Homo sapiens: one gene and its partners. The protein of the gene in region 1 interacts with the protein of each later gene in a pairwise test. Each region holds a gene or a part of one and is shown on either strand. Other genes may lie near its edges.

Region 1 (7,210 bases):
CCAGCTGAGAGGGCCTGGAAGCAGTGACACCCACTAGCAACGAGCCCACCCAGTGCTCTGATCTTAGTGTTTTCGTTTCTCGTTTGTGTAGACCCAGGCTGGAGTGAGGTGGTGTAGTCATGGTTCACTGCAGCCACCAACCTCCTGGGCTCAAGTGATCCTCTCACTTCAGCTCCTCAGTTGTTGAAACCACAGGCACATGCCACTATGCCCAGATAATTAAAAAAAAAAAATTGTTTTAGAAATGGGGGTCTTGCTGTGTTGCCCAGGCTGATCTGAAACTCCTGGCCTCAAGCGATTCACTTACCTGGGCCTCTCAAAGTGCTCTTGAGATTCCAGATGTGAATCAACGTGCCTGACCAGGTCTCAGTTTTGAATTCATTCATTACTGTTTTGGGGCAGGGTCTCGCTCCGTCACCCAGGCTGGAGTGCAGTGGTGTGATTATGGGTCACAGCAGCCTCAATCTCTTGGGCTCAAGTGATCCTCCTGCCTCAGCCTCCCATGTAGCTGGGAACACAGACACACACCACTATGCCTGGCTAATTTTTACATTTTTTGTAGAGATGGGGTCTCCCTTTATTGCCCAGGCTGGTCTCAAACTCTTGGGCTCAAGTGATGGTCCCTTCTTGGCCTCCCAAAATACTGGGATTACAGGCATGAGCCACCATGCCTGGCCATTTTTTTTTTTTTTTTTTTTTTTGAGACGGAGTCTTGCTCTGTCGCCCAGGCTGGAGTGCAGTGGTGCGATCTCAGCTCACTGCAAGCTCTGCCTCTCGGGTTCACGCCATTCTCCTGCTTCCGCCTCCCGAGTAGCTGGGACTACAGGCGCCTGCCACCACACCCGGCTGATTTTTTTGTATTTTTAGTAGAGACAGAGTTTCACTGTGTTAGCTCGGATGGTCTCGATCTCCTGACCTTGTGATCCTGACCTTGTGGGAGGCCCGTCTTGGCCTCCCAAAGTGCTGGGATTACAGGCGTGAGCCACCACGCCCGGCTGCCTGGCCAGTTTTTAATATTTTCTAATGAAAAGAACCAGGGCTCCTTGGAGAAGGGGCTGATTCCCGGGCTGGGGCTGGGAATGCAGGGGGAGCCTGGAGCACCCTGCAGTGCCAGGAAATCAGGACATGCCCCAAAATGAAAAGTCTGTTGATGGGGGTGCATCAGGGGACCCAGCAGCTGATGGCAGGAGCTCCCCAGGGCCAAGGACGGACAGTGTGATTCACAAAACAAAGTAGTGTTGTGTTCTAGCTCGGAGTGCAGCCTCAATAGCCAGGACTTCATCCCAATATAAACAAATGGCTGAATATATAAATGAGTGACCAAGAAGAGGCCGCTCTCTGGTGCCGAACTTCCAGTAATTCCCGTAGCTACTCCTCCGTCAGGGTGGTAAGGGGTGGTCCCCACCCCTTCAGTGTGGTCTGCGTGCAGCAGCTTCGTTCGAGAGCGCGGTGCGGGGCGGGGAAGACGAGAGCGTCTTTGCGTGGGGAGGCCTGGCAGTCACAGCCTCAGCCAGGAGATCGGGAGCACCTCCCGCGATGAGCCGTGCTGACAGGACGGGCCGTGGGCACGGGGCGACGAGGGGGACATTTCCCTCTGTGCTCTTCCTACCCACACCCACAGCCCAGCCTCGTCGTGAGGAGAGCAATGGATGGATCCAGACGTCTGAGTCAAGTTTGGACCTTGCTGCATCAATGTGGATTTGTTCATTGTTAACAAACAGACCATCCTAGTGTAAGGGTTAGCAATAGGAAGAGTGAGTGGGGGGCCATGGGGATTCTGTGTTTGCAGTTCTTTGTAAATCTAACACTTTTCTAAAACTAAAAGCTTATTAAAGGTAAAATAACCTCTGACACAGACACATGGCCCGTGCCCCCTGCCCCGTCCCGCCTTGGTTGCGACCGTTCCCCCCTGCGTGGTGCCTCTGCCCCGCTCCTGTGCTCTCTGTTCCTGGCCAGCTCCTGGCCCTGGCTGTGCCCAGAAGGTGCTTTTGCTCTTCCTTTTCTGGGGTGGCGGGGCCAGGCCACACTGGCACCCGTCACTGGCCTGCGGGCCTCTGTGGCAGCTCCTCGTGGAGTCTGCAGAGCCTGCTCCAGGTCTGCTCCTCTTCCCAGTGCAGTGTCTGTCGCTCAGTGTCTGTGGGTTCCAGCTGCCCCTCACCCTACCCCACTCCTGCCCCACTACCTAAGTTTTGATCAATAGGAATACCTGCTCCCTGCACGTGTCCCCCAGTGAACAAACACAGATGAATGTGGACGTTCCTCTGGCGCCAGCCCAGCCCTCTCGGGACAGTGGCATAAGCCACAGAGCTGCCGTGTGCTGACCAGACCCACTGGGCACACTTGGTGTGCTCCCCCACCCTACCGGGCACCTTGTCTTGACTGTTCCCCCGCCCCCGTGCCACCCTCACCACTGCCTTGCCTGGACCAGACTAGGCACGCTTGGTGTGCTCCCCCCACCCTACCCGGCACCTTGTCCTGACTGTTCCCCCGCCCCCGTGCCACCCTCACCATTGCCTTGCCTGGTTGCCTGGCTTCTTGTGCCCGAAGCCTCCACCATCCCCAGCTTCCTTTATGCTCTGCCCTCCAACCCCCAGCAGCTCATTCTCCCTGTCATGGGCCTCTGCACGGCCTTCTCTGTCCAGGCCATGCCTCCCGAGAGTGGGCAGGTCTGCGTCATGCACCTCCTGGTCCCAGCCCTGCTACTCACGGGGGCCTCCCCAGGCCTGGAGCCCGCTCTTCCTGTGGCTCCCTTTGCCACTTGGGTGACCTGCCAGCACCTGTGTCCCTGCTGTTGGTGGAGCCCCCGAGGGCAGACCGGCAGCCGTGAGCACGGTGCCTAGGTGCGTGTGGCACCACAGGGCTGTGGGATGGCCTTGCCAAGGCAGAGGAAGGCCTGTGGGCGCATGGACGTCCTGAGCCTCACCGGGCTGTTTGTTCTGTAGAGACCAGTTACGCACTGCTCAGAGCATGGCTTAGGGACTGGCCTAGTGGGGAAAATGAAACTGCAGCCTGTTGGGCCTGCTGCTGCTGCTGCTTAGGGAGGCGGGGGCCGGCCTGGGGCCATCCTCTGCTGTGGCTCCTGGAGAGTGTGTCTGTGCTGGGTTGGTGTGCTGTCTCCCCGTGCGCCCAGGCTGTGTGTGTGCGTGCAGTCCAGACACCACAACTCCCATGGGGGCTGGTATTGATGGGGGTGAGCCTACCCTGGCTGCTTTCCTGATGGCTCTGTGCTCCCCGCAGCAGCTGGTACCTCAGGCTGTGTCCTGACTCCTACAGGGCTTCACACCGACAGAGGTGCTGGGACAGCTTCTGAGGGGCAGTGGCTGGAGATGCTGGGGTCTCTTGATTGGCAGGAAGCACAGGAAGTATGGCTCCCATGCGGGTGGGGGATGCTCCTGATGACCCCGTGTTGTCAGGGGGCTGTCACTGCCAGTGGGGTCCACGCTGACTCAGGATGAGGAGAGAGCATTGCCCTCTCAGGTGTTTGCATTTTCAGGATGTGGTGGTCTCCTGTGTGCAGACCAGCCAGAAGGAAGGCCGGGGCCGTGCCGCTCTGTGCGCCCCCATGGGGAGCTGCTGTGGGCATTTCTGTTGGGCTGGGTGCCCTGTGGTCCTGGCTGGCAGCAGCCTCAGCCCAGCACCGTCCAGGCACCGCAGAAGCTGGTCGGCCCCTTCTCTCTCCAGGGCCATCCAGCAGGAAAGCCACTTTGAGTGCCTCCAGCTGCGTACACACTGCAGGGCAGGGCGGCCCATCTGTCTGTCCGTCTGTCCGTCCCTGGCCCGAGCACTGACTGGGCTAGGCTGGGCCGGACAAGGGAGAGGGGAGTGCCATCGACCTGGAGCTCGTCAGCAGAGTTGCTGCCTGTGTTCAGAAGGCCTTTCCTGGGGGCTTGGCAGCAGAGGACCTTGAGGTGGAGCCCAGGACCTTTCTGATGGATCCTTCTTGCAGGCCAAGGACGGCCCTGTCCCCTCCCTTCTGGTCCCACCCCCACCGCCTCTTCTGGCAGCCTGAGGTGGAGCCCAGGACCTTTCTGATGGATCCTTCTTGCAGGCCAAGGACGGCCCTGTCCCCTCCCTTCTGGTCCCACCCCCACCGCCTCTTCTGGCAGCCTGAGGTGGAGCCCAGGACCTTTCTGATGGACCCTTCTTGCAGGCCAAGGACGGCCCTGTCCCCTCCCTTCTGGTCCCACCCCCACCGCCTCTTCTGGCAGCCATGCCACTTGGAAAAGGCCAATTCAGACGCTCCCTCGTTTCACCAGCCTTGGCCAGCCCTTGCCTCTGGAAAGGGGGCAGCTGTTTGTCTCTGCCAGGCGTCCCATTGGCCAGGGAGTGAGGCTGGAGGGCCCGGCAGCAGGCATTTGCGAGTGCTGGCCAGCCGGCACCCCGCCCCGCTTCTCCTCCCCACCTTCCCGTCGCCCACTCATGCTGGGAGACCACTGCAGTCTCCCTGAAGACCAAGCCCGGCCCGGCCAGTCCCTGCAAAGTGGACTCTGCTGCAAAATGGTGCTTCAGGCTGTCAGCAAAGTGCTCAGGTAACACCTGCCAGCCTGGCTGGGGGAGGGGTGTGTAGCACATCTGTCTGCCCTGTTCTTGCCCCCAGGAAGGAGGTCAGGGTGGGGAGGCGGCGGACTGTGTCCGTGGCTGCCCTCCCAGTGTGGCCGGCGGCTGTGCAGCGAGCTGTGCTGGGCCACACGCAAGCTGTCCAGGGCAGAGGCGGCTGTGCAGTCCCGGGCCAGCCTGGCGGGTTTGCTCTGGAGCCCTGCCCAGTGGGGCTTTCCTTAGCCGCCTGCACTTCCTGTTGCTCTGTGGGAGAGGAGCGGGTCTTGGTGTCCTCGACCTTCGGGGTTGACCCCACCTTGCCGGCACAGGAGCCTGCCTTGTCCTCCCGCAACCCACAGGGTGTGGTTCCTCAGCCGCCAGCAGGTGTGCCTGTCTTTGTCCCAGCGTGCGGCTGTTTGTGCCCTGGGCAGGGGCTTCAGCCACCCAGGCAGAGGTGACCCGGAGTCTGTCCTTGTGTGGCCTTGTCCAGAGAAGTGGCATGGGGTTCCCGGGTGCCTATTTTTGTGCTGGCTGCCATAGGGATGTTGCCGGAAAATCCATTTTTGACATTTTTCTCACCTGTACTTTCTCTGACCTGCTGCGGGGGTGCCTCCCTGCCCACACCACTCAGCTCGGTGTGTGCAGGGGCGTGTGTGGGAGTGTGCGCCCAAGTGTGTGGGAGCGTGCACCCGTGTGTGTGGGAGTGTGCACCCGTGTGTGGGCATGAGGGGCCGGGGGAGTGGGGCAGGCACAGCCAGCTGCAGCAGTGAGTGTGTCCTCCCGGGTGGGGTTGCCTGGTGGGGGTGTGAGGCGAGCGTGGCCTGCTGGACGTGCCCTCCAAGGGCCGGGGGCTGCGGCACCCGTGTGCATCTCCGTGCCTCTGCCTGTCCCTGGGCACCCGGCTCCATCTTTCTCTTCATAGGCTCCTTCCCTATCTCCCGATCACCTGTGCATTCAACAGGGAGGGCTCCACAAGTAGACACAAGAGTGCCGGCCGGTGACCCTGCCTAGGATGTCCTATCTTAAGGTGAAACTGTGAGGTTTTGGAAATGTGTGGGCAAGTTGGCAGTACTCGTGAGTTCAAATCAGGAATGGTGCCTGACATCAGTGGTGTGAGGGGACTGGCGTGTGTGTGTGTGTGCCTGTGCCAGTGTGTGCTTGTGTGTCTGAGGCCAAATGCCGAAGGCAGCTCCACAGGAGACACAGAGGCAGGCCTGGAGCCCAGCCAGGCCCTAAGGAAGACGGGCGGAGTCCCTTCCCTGGGGCTCAGGAAGGTTTCAAAGGAAGCGATGAGGAAGCCACCTTGGCTGGGAGCTGGATGCATGGAGGGGCCGAGGCGCAGTGGAGCATGGTGGCCACGTGGGGCTGAGGTTCTAGGACAGCAGCAGCACCTGCCTGTTTGGACGTTTGGTCTGGGATGTCTGCGGGCGTTCCTTGTGCCATCTTGGCTTTTTCCTTCTCAATGGGCCTCTGCAGAGGGCACAGTAGGCTGGTAAAAGCTCGCTTTGTCTGGGGCTGCTGACCTGTTTGGGGGGGCAGACAATTAAACTCAGAAGAAAAGAAGCCACACTCCACAGCTTCCAGCTGGCTGAAGCCTGTGGGCAGTGCAGGCTGTGCTGAGAGATGGACAGGGGCTCCGGAGGCCTTCCCACCCCTCAGCCTGAGGCCGTGTGACAGAAGTGGGATCAGCACCCAGGGAGAACTCGGGTTAGAACACGGTGTTAGAAATGCAGTTTTCAGGCCCCCCCTCAACACCCAGAAGGCCACATCAGAAATGTAGGGGTGGGGGTGGCGCCAAGCACCCCAGCATGTGGTGCCCTCCCTGCATGTTGGGGTGACAGGAGGTGCCCGTGGCGTGCACCCTGGGCAGCAAGGTGTGCTGAGACCCAGGCTCTGTACCGGGTGGCTACTGGGGGCTCTGCCTGGCCGGGTCTTGGGGGAAGGGGTCACTGGGAGCCTTGACTTTCAGGCTCTGGGTGGACCAACCAGCACTGACATTCACCCGAACCAAGGAGCATGAGGGGCCCGGTGCAGATGGCTGAGTGGGGTCCAAGGACCATGCCCTCCTCAGAGGCGTCACCTGCGGGCCTTTCTCCTGCACCCCACACGCTGCCTGGTCACCGTATTTTCCAGGCCTGGGCTTGGGGACTTGTATTTCTGGGCCCCTCGTGCCTGCCCCACCCCTTGGCGTTGACCTGTGGTGGGAAGTGCCAGATGAGGGCCACCTCCTGCTGCTGCCCACTCACCTCAGGGTCTACAGGCTCGACTTCCATAGCAAGCGTGCTCTGGGCGAGTGGGGGTCTCTGAGCCTGGAGCACCCCATTCCTGTGGGCCGTGGGGCCTGGCCAGGATTCCATCCCTGTGATAATGAAGTTGACACTCGTGGCAAAGGTGCAGGGCACTCGGTTGTGCTGTCCTCGTCCCTCAGGGCGGATGAGGAGTGGGCGGCTCCCAGCCCACTCCCCAGCTCCCCCTGCCTGTGAAGCAGTGTGCACCTGCTGTGGGCAGGGTGAGACCCCCTGTGTGTTGACTGTGTGGTTGTCTAAGTTTTCCACGGGAGCCCAGCAGCTCTGATGCCTCCCTGTGCCCCTTCCCTTGCCCACCAAATTTGTGTCTAGCAGGGATTGCCTCACTTCCCAGTAGGGATCAGTTACGTGCTGGGTGCCAAGGAGGC
Region 2 (7,024 bases), on another chromosome or scaffold:
ACCAGGATTCTGACCCAGGCATTCTGGCTTGTACCCATATGGCATGCTTAACTGCAATCCATATTTTCTCTCCTGTTCATGATGGTCTTCCTCAGATCTGTAGTTTCAAAAACTTGACTTGGGAAATACATTCTTCTGACATCTAAATTTTGGGGTCAGTTTTCTAGAAAGAGTTCCAAAATAACACCCAAGTAAATGAGTTATTTTTGACATGTTATTTTAATCCATTTTTGGAAGTTATTCTTGGTGCAGATTAAATATAACTATTGAGTGGGACTTTTTAATAATTTTGACTTATTACCTATAAGTACTCATAAGAACTTAGAAGTGAGAAGTTATTCCATATTAACTCTTTTGCTTAATGGAATGTTTGCGTCTTTGTATATTTTGTCCTGTAATTTATTTTTTTTAAAGAAAGAACCTCACTGTCTTGCCCAGCCTGGACTCGAACTTCTGGGCTCAGATGATCTTCTTGCCTCCTAAGTTGCAGGAACTATAGGCCTGAGCCACTGTGTTTGGCTTTGTTCTGTAATTTTTTTTTTTTTTTTTTTTGACAGAGTTTAAGTCTGTCTTTTAGGCTGGAGTGCAGTAGTGCAATCATGGCTCATTGCAACCTCTGCCTCTCAGGCTCAAGCGATCCTCCCACCTCAGCCTCCTGAGTAGCTCGGACTACAGGTGTGCACAAGCACGCCCGACTGATTTTTAAATTTTTTGTAGAGACAGGGTTTCACTATGTTGCCCAGCCTGGTCTCGAACTCCTTGGCTCAAGTGATCCTCCTGCCTTGGCCTCCCAAATGTTGGGATTACAGGTGTGAGCCAATGTGCCCAGCCCTGTTCTATAATTTTTTAAACCACTTGGCACTGGATAGTTTTTGGGTTGAATTATGAAGTTGAAATTTAGTTAATGATTGAATGTTGGTCTCAGCCCTTTTAGTTTATTTTCATGAATAGCTATGCTTATAATGGCAGAAACAGGGTGAATAGAGTGTTGTACATGTAAAAATGAGAGAAGTTCCATCACTGATACTTTATGTTGGGGCAACTTTGACAGTTCTTTGGGTTTGTGAAATAAAGGGTGCTATAGAAGTGCACAGTGTCTTGTATAGGCCTACTCAGTACTGTAAATGTCCACCTGATTTTATTTATGAAGTTTCAGGAATAGTCCACATTTGTTATTGTTTAAGAATTGGAATCACAAATTCAATTGGATTTAAAGGTTAGAAAAAAAGTATACCTAGGCAGGGAATACAGCAGGTGAGCGGTGGGAGAGGTATTGCCTGCCTTTTCCTAACTGTCCAGCAGGATCCAGACTCTTCAGCTTCTTTGTCAGTGCCTGCAGTTGACCGTACTCATAGTTTAAGTACAGCTCCAGAGTCATAGTCTCTGTGAACGAATATAAGTATTCTCCACTTGACTCAATGGGGTAGGTTCTAGAAGACACCTATACTAGGACAGTTGATGGTTGATGAGCTTAAAACCTAATGGGAAGAGTAGCAGAACTAAAGCCAGGATTTAAAGCACGTGTGTTTATATTATTGAAATAAGACAGAGATGGCAAAACAAATTTTAAAAAGTTTTTTTTTGAAACATACCTTAAATTAATAGTGATGGTATATCATTTCCATTTACCATGCCCTGATTGGCAGATCTTTAGCCCATCATTTCATGGAGATACTTAGATGTGGACTTCGCTTTGTTATAAAAAGTTTCCAAGTTCTTCTAAGTACAGGTGGTTTGGGAAGATTGTCTTAGTAAAAAGGTGTGTGAGTAGGTCTATCAAAAGAAAACCAGTCATACTGTTACCTCCTTGCTGATTCAAGTTTTGGGGGCATCTTTTCCCACCAGGAACAGCTTATCTGCATTGAACGTCTGCTGAGGCAGGTAGCCTGCCTCTTAGATGAGCTCTGCACAGATCTTAGGGAAGACCTTAACAGTTACAGGTCATGTGGTGACCTGATCATTCACAGTCATATTGTATAAATTCCAAACAGGCCTGGAGCCTTGGCAATTGTCTGTGGTATGTGATAACACTTCTACTATGCTTAGCTTTTATTTATTTATTTATTTATTTTTGAGACAGAGTTTCACTCTTGTTGCCAAGGCTGGAGCGCAATGCATGATTTTGGTTCACTGCAACCCCCGCCTCCTGGGTTCAAGTGATTCTCTTGCCTCAGCCTCCCAAATATCTGGGATTACAGGCACGCACCACCATGCCTGGCTAAGTTTTGTATTTTTAGTAGAGATGGGGTTTCACCATGTTGGTCAGGCTGGTCTCGAACTCCCGACCTCAGGTGATCCGCCCGCCTCGGCCTCCCAAAGTGCTGGGATTACAGGCGTGAGCCACTGCGCCTGGCCTATGCTTAGCTTTTAAATTCTTAACAAGCTCTTTACCTTCCCCTTAATTAACACCAGATCAGTTGGTAACCCAAATTGTTGATTCTCTGGCCATTTATACAGAAGGCTTCCTGTTTTCCTTGCCTTTTGCTGATTCTCGTTGATTCCACAGGTATAGAATTTCTACATGTTATAATAGATAAATCTCTGATCCCGTATGCACAGATAGCATCCATTGTTTTCTTACCTCTTTGAGTTATTTACTATCTCTCCAGCTGATTCAGGAGATTTTATTCCTCGTTTTCCTGATTCCTGGGACACTTTTACTGCTTTTGCAGTTCCTGAATAGGGTGGAGTTAATAATGTTTAACACCTCAAATCAGCTACAGATACACCCAGAATAAAGAACAAGATGGCAGAAACTAACATGAGGGCATGATAGCTAACCCAGGCATTCGGGGTTGCTGTACCTTTGCTATGGAGTCTAGCTTTCATTCTGTCTGTGAAAGTTTAGAAAATTGAGTTTGGGACAGAGAAGCTTCTGCACACATTAATGCCTACTTTTCAGGGGGCCAAGTTCTCCCATTGCTATTCTGCTTTTATGAATACGGTTATTGCTATTCTGCTTTTATGAATACGGTTATTGCTATTCTGCTTTTATGATCTGGAGATTTTGACTGCATTTCTCTTGATTCCTCACCAATTCAAGAGACACAGTAAGTAATCTGAACATTTAATATGAAGCATACTTTGTGTAATTTATATTTCTCAAAGTTTGTCTCCCAGTGGTAATATATAGATTTAGCTCCCTGAACATCATCTTTCCCTCTTAAATGTTCTTGATTCCTTTTTCTTTCTGAATGTCACCCATTAGGGCACAGGTCTGATAATTTTATCAATGCCAGTAACCACTTATCCCTTACTATGCACCAGACATAGTGCTAAGTACTTTATATATATTATCTCATTTAATCCTTATAGCAATCTTGTGAGTTATTATCTCTACCTACAAATGAGGAAATTGGAGCTTAGAGAGGTGAAGTGACTTGCCCAGGGACACACAGGTAGATAGTAAGTGGTAGAGTTAGAAATTGCTCCTTCAGGCCGGGCGCGGTGACTCACGCCTGTAATCCCAGCACTTTGGGAGGCCGAGGTGGGCAGATCACGAGGTCAGGAGATTGAGACCATCCTGGCTAACATGGCCAAACCTCGTCTCTACTAAAAATAAAAAAAATAGCCGGGCGTGGTGGCGGGCACCTGTAGTCCCAGCTGCTCAGGAGGCTGAGGCAGGAGAATGGCGTCAACCCGGGAGGTGGAGCTTGCAGTGAGCTGAGACCACTTCACTGTAGCCCAGCCTGGGTGACAGTGAGACTCTGTCTCAAAAAAAAAAAAAAAAAAAAGAAATTGCTTCTTCAGATCAGGTTTGCTCTCTCTTACATTGCATTATTTTACTACAAAAACTTCTCCTTTTCTCTTTAATTTACCTCCCTCTTCTAGTCCCACCCCAAGTTTTCTTTCTTCTCTTTTTTCCCTTCCTTTTTTGGTAATTTCCCCTTTAGGAGTTATTTACAGTTTTGCATGTCAGACATAAATTCTCTTGGGAAAAGTATGCAGAAATAATTCAATTGTATTCTGATTTCTTATAGACAGGGATTTACTCTTAGCACTTATTTTAAGAATAATACCAGGAGCCCTTATATTTGTATTACACTTTATAGTTTTATGAAGCGTTTTTACACATTTCCTTACTTAATCCTCATAGCAGTCATGTGGTCTAGGCAGTGAGGGTTATGGCTATTACACCTATTTTCAGGTAAAGAGAGGAACTCAGATTAAAGTGACTTGTCTGAGATCTCAAAATAAGAGACAGAGCCTGAATTTAAACTTAGGTCTTTCGACTCTAATATAAACACTTTATTTAACACACTGGTCTTCCTTGTAGAGTAAAAGCTGCTACAAGCAAATCGTTCACTAAGGCCTCTACAAAATTAGTTGATGAGACAAGGTTTTTGCCCTTAGCAATTACAGTGCTGAAATAAATGATATAATCAAATGTTCTGACTTCATTTAAGCCAATTAGGAGTGGGTAAATATCATTATAGCATGGCATTTTCTAAAGTTTTAAGCCTTGAGCTTTGTTTTGTTTTGTGAGAATTGAGAACCTGGAATTTTAGTTCTGCATTTTAAATCATGAAATGTTAAAGTCCTTAATTCTTAAGTTATTGTCTATCTCATTGTGCACTCAATTGCTTACATTCTAACTAAAACAATTATGATAAAGGAATAGGGTGAAGGGAGGACAGACATAAACAGTGAAATTAAGGAATTGGGAATCCTAACAAGGGCTTGCTGAGGTATCTTACAGTAGCACTTTTTTTTTTGAGACGGAGTCTCGCTGTGTCACCCAGGCTGGAGTGCAGTGGCGCGATCTCAGCTCACTGCAAGCTCTGCCTCCCGGGTTCACGCCATTCTCCTGCCTCAGCCTCCCGAGTAGCTGGGACTACAGGTGCCTGCCACCACACCTGGCTAATTTTTTGTATTTTTAGTAGAGATGGGGTTTCACCGTGTTAGCCAGGATGGTCTCAATCTCCTGACCTCGTGATCCGCCTGCCTCGGCCTCCCAAAGTGCTGGGATTACAGGCATGAGCCACCATGCCCGGCCTACAAAAGCACTTTTGTAGAAAATTGAATATGATCCTTAAAAGAATGGATAAGCTGCAAGTAGTATTCACTTCTGGAAAGTGATAATGTTTGAGAGCTCAGACAGCTTATTCAATGATCCATTTTTGACATACTATCTTGTACTAGTGTCTGTTTTATTAAATTAATTTTTACTAGCAGTGTTCATTTTTACTTAGTTAAGTGTCTACCCACTGACCTGCTCCCATTGTGGAAATACCACACCGTGTTTGCCCCTTACGACTTTTCTGTATTTGGCAGCAGAGGCTGGTTGCTCAGTTTATTGTAGTACTAGGGAGTTGCCCTTTGTTGTGTTTTTCACAACAGCGATCCATTTCATTTGAACATTTTCAGATCTGGTTGAGGATGTTCTCCATATGTCGACTCTTATCTAGACAAACAGAATAGACTTTTTCTATTTTTGTGGCTAGAGTGGAAAATTTTAGTACTGAATTGCATGTATATGACCCATTGATATTCTTGATACTGGCAAATCCTAAAGGAATCACAGACTCATAATATTTTAGTGAGGTTAATCATCATAATTCATTATTTATCAGCTATTTGCAGGGCACTGTGTTAGGTACCATGGCAAAATAGAGACAAATAGATGTTTGGCCCTCCATTTAGAAAAGTTCAGTCCAGTAAGAGGTATAATGTATGGGTACAAATGACTGTAATTCAAACAGAAAGTGACAACGGAGTAACAGGGTACTGTGGGAGCAGAGGAAAGAGAGATTGCTTCTGGCTGTAGAGATTAGGAAAGCTTCCTATATGAAGTGAAATATGAATTGAGCATTTCAGAGTGAAGGACATGCCACGCAGAGGGATTAGCATAAATTGGGTGTATCTGTACAGCACCTGGTAAGTTCTGTTAATTATCTACTTCTCTTTCTGCTCTGTTGGATTTGAACCCTTTGAACTTAGAGAATTGATGTTTTCCAGCTTTTCATTCTCTACTTCACCACCTGTTCAACTTGGTACATTAATTACTTAGAGTTGTAAGTGGCAGTAGTGTATATGGAGTGAATTCAAGGAAAGAGAGTCCAGAAATGGGAAGACCAGTGAAGAGACAAATAATCTAGGTGATAATAATGAAGTTCTAAACTAGGTGAGATTGGGAAGGAGAGACTTGCATGGATGGGTCTCTCTAGTGAAAGAACCTAGGCAGTTCTTTCACTGTGAATTGTACATAAAGTACATACCGTGTGCCAGGAGATATGGAAAGGGAAAGACATGGTGCTCCCTCAGAAGCTGGGCAGGTGACTGGAGAGCTACATTCACAGGGGTAGAAATAGCTGCAATCAGGCATAGCAGCTGTCATGAAAGAGCAGTGAGAGGCACACCTAAGGGAGAGGGGCACCTACTTGGGATAGTGAGAGAAGCTTTCCAAGGATGTGTGAGTGTTTGAGCTTAGACTTGAAGGGTGAGGAGGAGTGTTTCAGGCCGAGAAGCCTCAGGCGGGTATTATCACATAGTGATGTAAGACACGAAGCATATTAGGGGGCCACAGGAACCGGAATTGTTGCCGTGATGCTGGACAGGAGCAATGAACTTTTATTTGCTGTCTATTTATGTTTATCCAGCTTTAGCACTCTGAGCTTTTGTAAGAAAGTGTTTCTGTTGCCTCTAGTAGCCTCTTGGAAGCACCTCTTCTGTGCTTCTCACTCCCAACCTGGAGTGCAGTGCTGGTGATAAATTGTCTCTTGCTTCCATTTTGTGAAATTAAACAGAAAAAGTAAAGATACCATCAGCCAGAGAGATAAAGAGAAAAGTAAATCCACTAAAATCCTTTTCTTTGATGAAGCCTAGAACCACCGAGGTTGTTGTATAAAGAGAATGCTGCATCAAAGCACAGCTTCAAGAGCACCTGACTTGAGGGAGGGGATTGTGGTAGGAACATGATTATTTACCTTTCCCATAGGGTTTTATGGAACTCTTAAACATTTCCCAAGACTGTAATACCTAATAATGAAGTCCTTTTATTCTAGTTCTAGCCTTGATTCTTTTC
Region 3 (7,024 bases), on another chromosome or scaffold:
TATTGTTATAGAAGGATGGCGAAGAAAGGCATGGCTGACTGCTCTAGCACCAGTTGTCCTTGGCCAGCCTCAGATGCCCACGGCCTGGACAAGTCTCTTGCAGAAAGAGCTTTCTAAGAATGGCCTTAGGGAAAGTGTTAGGTGATAGGTACACAAGTAACTGGCATGCTGACTGTGAGATTGATATCTCAGGTTAACCTTTGTCCTCACATGTGCTTTCTGCTGCAGAGACTAGCATTTGGTAGGAGTTAAAATAGAAAGATTTGTGTTAAGCTTACTTTAGTGCATTTGAATGAAAAGATGGATGGACGGATGAATGGGTGGGCCTGAAATGTGATTTGTTTGCTGGGCAGAGGTTCTGGGAAAACTTGAAAGTAAAAGAACATCTTATCTATGTGAATCTTTATTGGCTAGTTTGATTTCATGGAGATTTTTAACTATTCTGCCAAATATGGGTGCTCAGGTGGGTTAACTGCTTTGAGATGAAGGATGCATAAGTTTTGTGCATTTGTGAAGAATAACAAGTTTTGAGTTTTTTTTTTCCTGCCATGTTATTGTCATTAATTAATGTTTCCTTTCTTCCTTTAGTTGTGTTTTGCACTTACCCTGTGTTCTGCCTTTTGGGTAAATGTATATTTTAATTTTTCTTAACCATTTTGGCTTTTGCCCCTTGTCTCACACTCTCCTATAACCATATTATTATTTTTCCAGTGGCATAACAAGGGACTTGCACTTATCTTCTGCATTTTGCAGTCTTTGGCATTGACGTGGTAAGTAACCTTTTAAACAATCCCCTCCCACATAGCCCACTGAATAATGTAGCCAAAGGAGATAAAACTCACATATTGTGGGTGGGAGAATTAAGAAAACACAGAAGCTGTTTAATTTAAGGATTCGTAATGATGAAAGTGAAGTCAGGCTCCAGAGCAAATGCCTATCAACCCAGCCCACTGCCAATAGATGGCATTAGTGGTCTTGAGTGGTCACAGGAGGCTCCTTGTTTGCCTGCTGTGGCATTTTTGCTGAACTAATGGTTGATTTTTGAGATGTTACAAATATTATTAAGCCACTCATGTCCGGTAAGTGCAAGGACAACAAAAGTATTATAAGGGATGTTAAAAAGGCTTGTGAGTCCAATAGAGGTTAACAAAAAAGGAAAGTGGTAAGAAAAATAATGAATGTTACATTTGTGATAGAATGAATCATTTAACAGAAGGACAAAGAGTGAACTGTCAGCAGGAGATGAGGAACAGTCACTGACGAAATGGAAAAACGTGTGTCTGTGGGCTGTAGGATCAGCGTATGTGCTCAGAGGCTTGTTGGCTTTTGGTAATTCAGCTGAAGAGTAGGAAATTGTAACTCCAGAGCCAAGTATAGTAAAAGGGCCGCTGGAGACATTTTGGGAAACCATGAGTGGGGCTGTAGGTTCATGGTCCTTTCAAGCCTATACGACCTCAGAGTGAGAGGGGTGGTGGCATAGTTGGAATCTGTAGGTTCCAAGACATTTCTGTAGTTCTTTCAAAGTTTATCAAGGGATGGTATCTGCCAGAACAGTTTCAGTATAGATGTGACTCACCTATTTTTGAAAAAAATGTTTGCTACAGTGTAAAGAAAGGAGGATTGTGGACATTTTAAAGTTCTGAAGAATTGGTTAACTCCTATTTGGTAGAAATGAATCTTGAGACTGTAAGCTTAACTCCCATCCCTCCCTTTAGCAATTTTGGACTTTTGAATAAATATAGTTACAAATTGCCTTTTGGAATTTACTGTGTTGACAAGTAATTGAGCTTCTGTACATGTTAAGTATAAGATATGGAGAAGGATGCTGGTGTTTGTGTTTATGTGTGTGTGTGTGTGTATGTTTTTTTTTTTTTTAAATGACATGCACATTTGAGTGGTAGACTGTTTATATTTTGATTTTTCTTCCAGGGCAGAAATTGGTACCTATATACACACACCTTGCTTTGCTTATAGACTGATTTTGAATCCAGTTTCAGAGGTTCAGCATTCATATGGGTCCAGCTGAATGGTGATATTCCCTTCAACACTCATGTGTTCTGACTGTGTTTGCTTTTCTAAGGGCTAACTTACAGTCTGCCTGACACACAGTGCCTGGTTCTTTAGCATTATGGAGCCTGTTCCTTGTATATGGTTTCCTTCTAAGTGACAGGGCTGAGCTAACTGGAATTTACCAAGATACCTTTGGACGTACTACATTTTCACTCATAGAGTAGTTGGTAGCATTTTTTTCTTCTTCTTTTTTATTCTCTTTTCTCTTCTTTTAAAATTAATAGGAGCAGAGCAGAAAATTTATCCCAATTAGGTAGAAGTTAAATTCTGTTTAGAATTTATAAAATGTTAGGAGTTCAACTGTGCCAGGTATGGGTGGCTCACACTGTAATGCCAAGACTTTGGGAGGCTGAGGTGGGAGGATTGCTTGAAGCCAGGAGTTTGAGACTAGCCTGGACAGTGTAGCAAGACCGGGTCTCTGCAAAAAAACAAACAAACAAACAAAAAAAAACATTAAAAAATTAGCCGGGCATGGTGGCACATACTTGTAGTCCCAGCAATTCTGGAGGCTGAGGCAGGGGGATTGCTTGAGCTTCCTAGACTTGAGCCTAGAAATTCAAGGCTGCAGTGAGCTATGATTGAGCCACTATATTCCAGCAGCCTAGGTGACGAGCACGACCCTGTCTCAAAAAAAAAAATAAATAAATAAATAAAGGAGGGGGGTGCGGTTCAACTGTTCTGGGTTTTATTTGATATTTTTTCAGAATAGAGTTTCTGTGCCATCTGGGTATTTGAAATCTGACTGTTTAAGGTGATTGTTGCTAGTTCAAGGTTATAGCAGTACTGCATTGAGGCCGAGGTCATACGGGTTATCTCCACATGAACCTTTTGCCCTTCTTCTGTGGCTGCCTATCTGTACATGGCCATAGTGTGTGTGTTTGGGTACACGTGCATGCACATGCGTGGGCCTTTGTGTGCACATGCTCATCCCCCAGGCTGAGTATGGGAGAGGGTCTGGATAGATCACTGCAGGTATTCTTACAGCTCAGAAGCCCATTCTGCTGGATAATCTGCTACTCCCTTCATCTCATTTGACCCTTTGTTTTGTTTTTCATTATAGGTACAGCCTTTCCTTCATACCATTTGCAAGGTAAGACTGTGTATTTGGAAATAATGATTTCTGTCATTTTAATTCAGAGTCTGCTTTCAGAGAGTATAGCCTATTTTATTTATCTTTACTGAAGTCTTTTGAGTCAAGTAGACAAATACTATACATCTCATTTATAGATAAGTAAGTTAAAGGTCACCCCACCACCCACTCTAATTATACAACTAATGATGGATATTTACCCAGGTACACTGATTTCCAATGCTGTGAACATTCTACTCTTATATATGGTGCATATATGCACATTATTACTCTTTTAACCCGTAGCTTTGAGTAGGGTTTTTTTTTTTTTTTTTTTTATAAAGGTGAATGTCATTTCATATCACTGAGTAAGATATGGAGGGATCTCAATTCGTGCTTCTTGCAGTATCCCACTGCTGGGAAGGTTTCACAAGAGTTTATAAAGGGAGAGTAAGCAGTACCAGGGCTTCCTAATTAGCAGTGTGACCTCGAGCAGCTCTCTTGACCCCTCTGGCCTCAAAGCATCGATAAGTAGACTGAGTTGGTCTAGATCATCTCCAGAGGCCTCTTTTAGCTCTGAAATTCTAATACTCCATACCTCTTTAAGCACTTTCAGTGACGGACCTCTCAAAATTAGCCGCATGATCTTTGCCTCTGACTTTGTTCTAATGCAACTATTTAACTTCTGTTCTTTTTTTTTTTTTTTTATCATTACCTGTTAATTAAAAACAAGCTTTTTAAAAAAACTGTACTGGGCCAGGTGCAGTGGCTCACGCCTGTAATCCCAGCACTTTGGGAGGCCGAGGCGGGTGGATCCTGCTGTCAGGAGATCGAGACCATCCTGGCTAACACAGTGAAACCCCGTCTCTACTGAAAATACAAAATATTAGCTGGGCGTGGTGGCAGGCGCCTGTAGTCGAAGCTACTTGGGAGGCTGAGGCAGGAGAATGGCGTGAACCCAGGAGGCGGAGCTTGCAGTGAGTCGAGATGGCGCCACTGCACTCCAGCCTGGGCGACAGAGCGAGACTCTGTCTCAAAAAAAAAAAAAAAAAAAGTACTGAGGAAATGAAAAATTATGCATGACTTGGGAAGGAGGAAGAGCAATCTTATGTCTTAACAAATTCCAAGACTGTTGCTGACAGTGATTTGAAAGTATTGAGGAGTGATTGATTGGATGCGAAGTTAAGCCTTTCAAGTGAAAGGCAGCTGAGTGGCTTTGTTGATAGATTCTAGGAGGGTAACAGTTATGAAATACTCCATGCAGACCTGGCTGGTTTTGGGGCCTGGTGGCTTGTCTGAGAAGAATATGGGCAGGGATGTCCTGGGAAGCTAGATTTTTATGTGAAGTAAACCGGAGTTCATCATTACTGAGGATCCAATGAGATATTGATCAACCTGCCAACATATGAATATTTTTTGGTCCCTGAACCAGCTGCATAGTTTTCAGGGCCCAGTGCAAAATAAAAATGTGAGCTTCTTGTTCAAAAATCATAGGCCGGGCACGGTAGCTCAGCCTATAATCCCAGCACATTGGGAGGCTGAGGTGTGCGGATCACGAGGTCAGGAGTTCAAGACCAGCTTGACCAACGTGGTGAACTCCTGTCTTTACTAAAAATACCAAAATTAACCGAGCGTGGTGGCGTGCACCTGTAATCCCAGCTACTCAGGAGGCTGAGGCAGTAGAATCGCTTGAACCTGGGAGGCGGAGGTTGCACTGAGCCGAGATCACGCCATTGCCCTCCAGCCTGGGCAACAGAGGGAGACTCTGTCTCAAAAAAAAAGATTAAGAATTTCAAGATGGCAACATCAAATCAAGGCATTAAACCCAATGTGGACCCTTCTGAGTATGGGGCCAATGCAGTTGCACAGGTCTCATTCGTGAAACTTGCTTGGAGTCATTTGTCAGAGCTTCAGTCTTGATCTGGATTGGCATGTATAAAATTTATGTACAAGTGATTGATAGAATGAGGGAATTTTATTTGAGATAGTGAGTTTCATGTGCTGAGGAGACGAATTACTCCTCTAGTAGGGAGGGAATCACAGAGCTAGATCCCACCCTTCTATTCTTTTTTTTTTTTTTTTTTTTGAGATGGAGTCTCACTCTATGGCCCAGGCTGGAGTGCAGTGGCCCGATGTCAGCTCACCTCAGTCTCCAACCTCCTGGCTTCAAGCTGTTCTCCTGCCTCAGCCTCCATGTGCACGCCACCATGCCAGGCTCATTTTTTGTATTTTTAGTAGAGATGGGGTTTCACCGTGTTGGCCAGGCTGGTCTCGAACTCCTGACCTCAAGTGATTGGCCCACCTCGGCCTCCCAAAGTGCTGGGTTTACAGGTCCGAACCACCATGCCTGGCCCCACCCTTCTATTTGTAAGTTCCCCTGGAATAGCTTTTCCCACAGTGTTCCACAGAAATAGTGTTTCTGTGGAAGAAAAGAGTTCTATGATCAAGTAAGTTTGAGAAACAGGTTAAGCAAAATTAGGTAGGTTCCTCTTTGCCTGGCTTGCTAGATCCTTCCATATGCTATGTGTATTGTGAGCTGCCATGAGGGGGACTTATGTGGCCATAAAACCCTTCTTGTGCAGAGACTCTTCTGAGACTACAGTGCAGAGTATATCTCAAGAAATGCTGCCCTGGAACCATCTTGATATTAAAATGCAGTGCCTACTCATGGAAATGCATCCATTCACCTCTCCCTCCCTTATGTGACTCCCAATGTCCTTAGTGCAGCACAGTTGAGAACGTGGAACAGAGCTGGGGTATGAGAAGCCTAGTGCCACATTGCACAGTGTGGTGTGGTGGTGGAAATGGAAGTGCTTGCTTGGGTAGAATAGTAATTTCTTGAAGACCAACTCTTCCTTGCACCCTCTACACTGAATTCCAAGCAGTAAATACCTGTGATAAGGCCATTATAGCATATTAATAAGTGCTCAGGACCCATAGTGAGCTCCCTTCTGCTGCCTGCTTAGAATGAAGAAAGGTCCCAGTTAATATTTGATTTAATGCTGTCAGTGCATTCTGTGATTTTGACCGATATTAAAGTGCAGCAATCCTGACTGATTTCTTAGTTTCTGACAGTCTATGTTATCTTTTTCTCTGATTATGATGGCTAATCCCATAATCAGACTGTCGGGTAAGTGGGGACATCCCCTCTTACAGATGAGGAATTTGAAACTCAAACAGGACAAGGAACTTTCCCAGGATAGTACTACTAATAAATGTTGAAGCTGCAGTTTGATGCTGTGAAGGTCTGATCTTTCAGTCTAGGTGCTTTCTACTCTGCAGCTTCCACTCTGGGTGCCCTCTAAAGGAGTGCCTTTGGGGTGATGACGTTCCACTCATCTTTGTGTCTTTTCTTTCCTAGGGATGCTGTGAAGAAGTGTTTTGCCGTGTGTCTTGCATAATTCATGGCCAGTTTTATGAAGCTTTGGAAGGCACTATGGACAGAAGCTGGTGGACAGTTTTGTAACTATCTTCGAAACCTCTGTCTTACAGACATGTGCCTTTTATCTTGCAGCAATGTGTTGCTTGTGATTCGAACATTTGAGGGTTACTTTTGGAAGCAACAATACATTCTCGAACCTGAATGTCAGTAGCACAGGATGAGAAGTGGGTTCTGTATCTTGTGGAGTGGAATCTTCCTCATGTACCTGTTTCCTCTCTGGATGTTGTCCCACTGAATTCCCATGAATACAAACCTATTCAGCAACAGCACATAAGCCTTGGGTGCAAGTGATTCCCAGGTGGCAAAAGGCAGCCCCATCAGAGATCACGGGAGCAACAGTAAGGGACAGAGTTTTGGGGTCCACTTGTCCCTCAGCATGGAAGCCATCACCGTGGTCCTGCATAGAGTGAGTCTGCTTCTACTCTGGCATCTGAGAACAAGTG

The links. Proteins that work in one complex are often made in the same cells at the same time.
Region 2: the proteins of MOB2 (region 1) and STK38L interact in binary tests that used the Homo sapiens proteins (3 or more experiments, as listed by UniProt).
Region 3: the proteins of MOB2 (region 1) and SFT2D2 interact in binary tests that used the Homo sapiens proteins (3 or more experiments, as listed by UniProt).

The regions. Positions count from the first base shown.
Region 1 is NC_000011.10:1,483,766-1,490,975, reverse strand, and holds the start of MOB2 (MOB kinase activator 2), read left to right. Parts: upstream 1-4,196; 5' UTR 4,197-4,419; coding exon 4,420-4,529; intron 4,530-7,210. UniProt on the Homo sapiens protein: Stimulates the autophosphorylation and kinase activity of STK38 and STK38L.
Region 2 is NC_000012.12:27,247,283-27,254,306, forward strand, and holds part of STK38L (serine/threonine-protein kinase 38-like), read left to right. Parts: intron 1-7,024. UniProt on the Homo sapiens protein: Involved in the regulation of structural processes in differentiating and mature neuronal cells.
Region 3 is NC_000001.11:168,236,001-168,243,024, forward strand, and holds part of SFT2D2 (vesicle transport protein SFT2B), read left to right. Parts: intron 1-588; coding exon 589-624; intron 625-711; coding exon 712-770; intron 771-3,130; coding exon 3,131-3,160; intron 3,161-6,500; coding exon 6,501-6,540; 3' UTR 6,541-7,024. UniProt on the Homo sapiens protein: May be involved in fusion of retrograde transport vesicles derived from an endocytic compartment with the Golgi complex.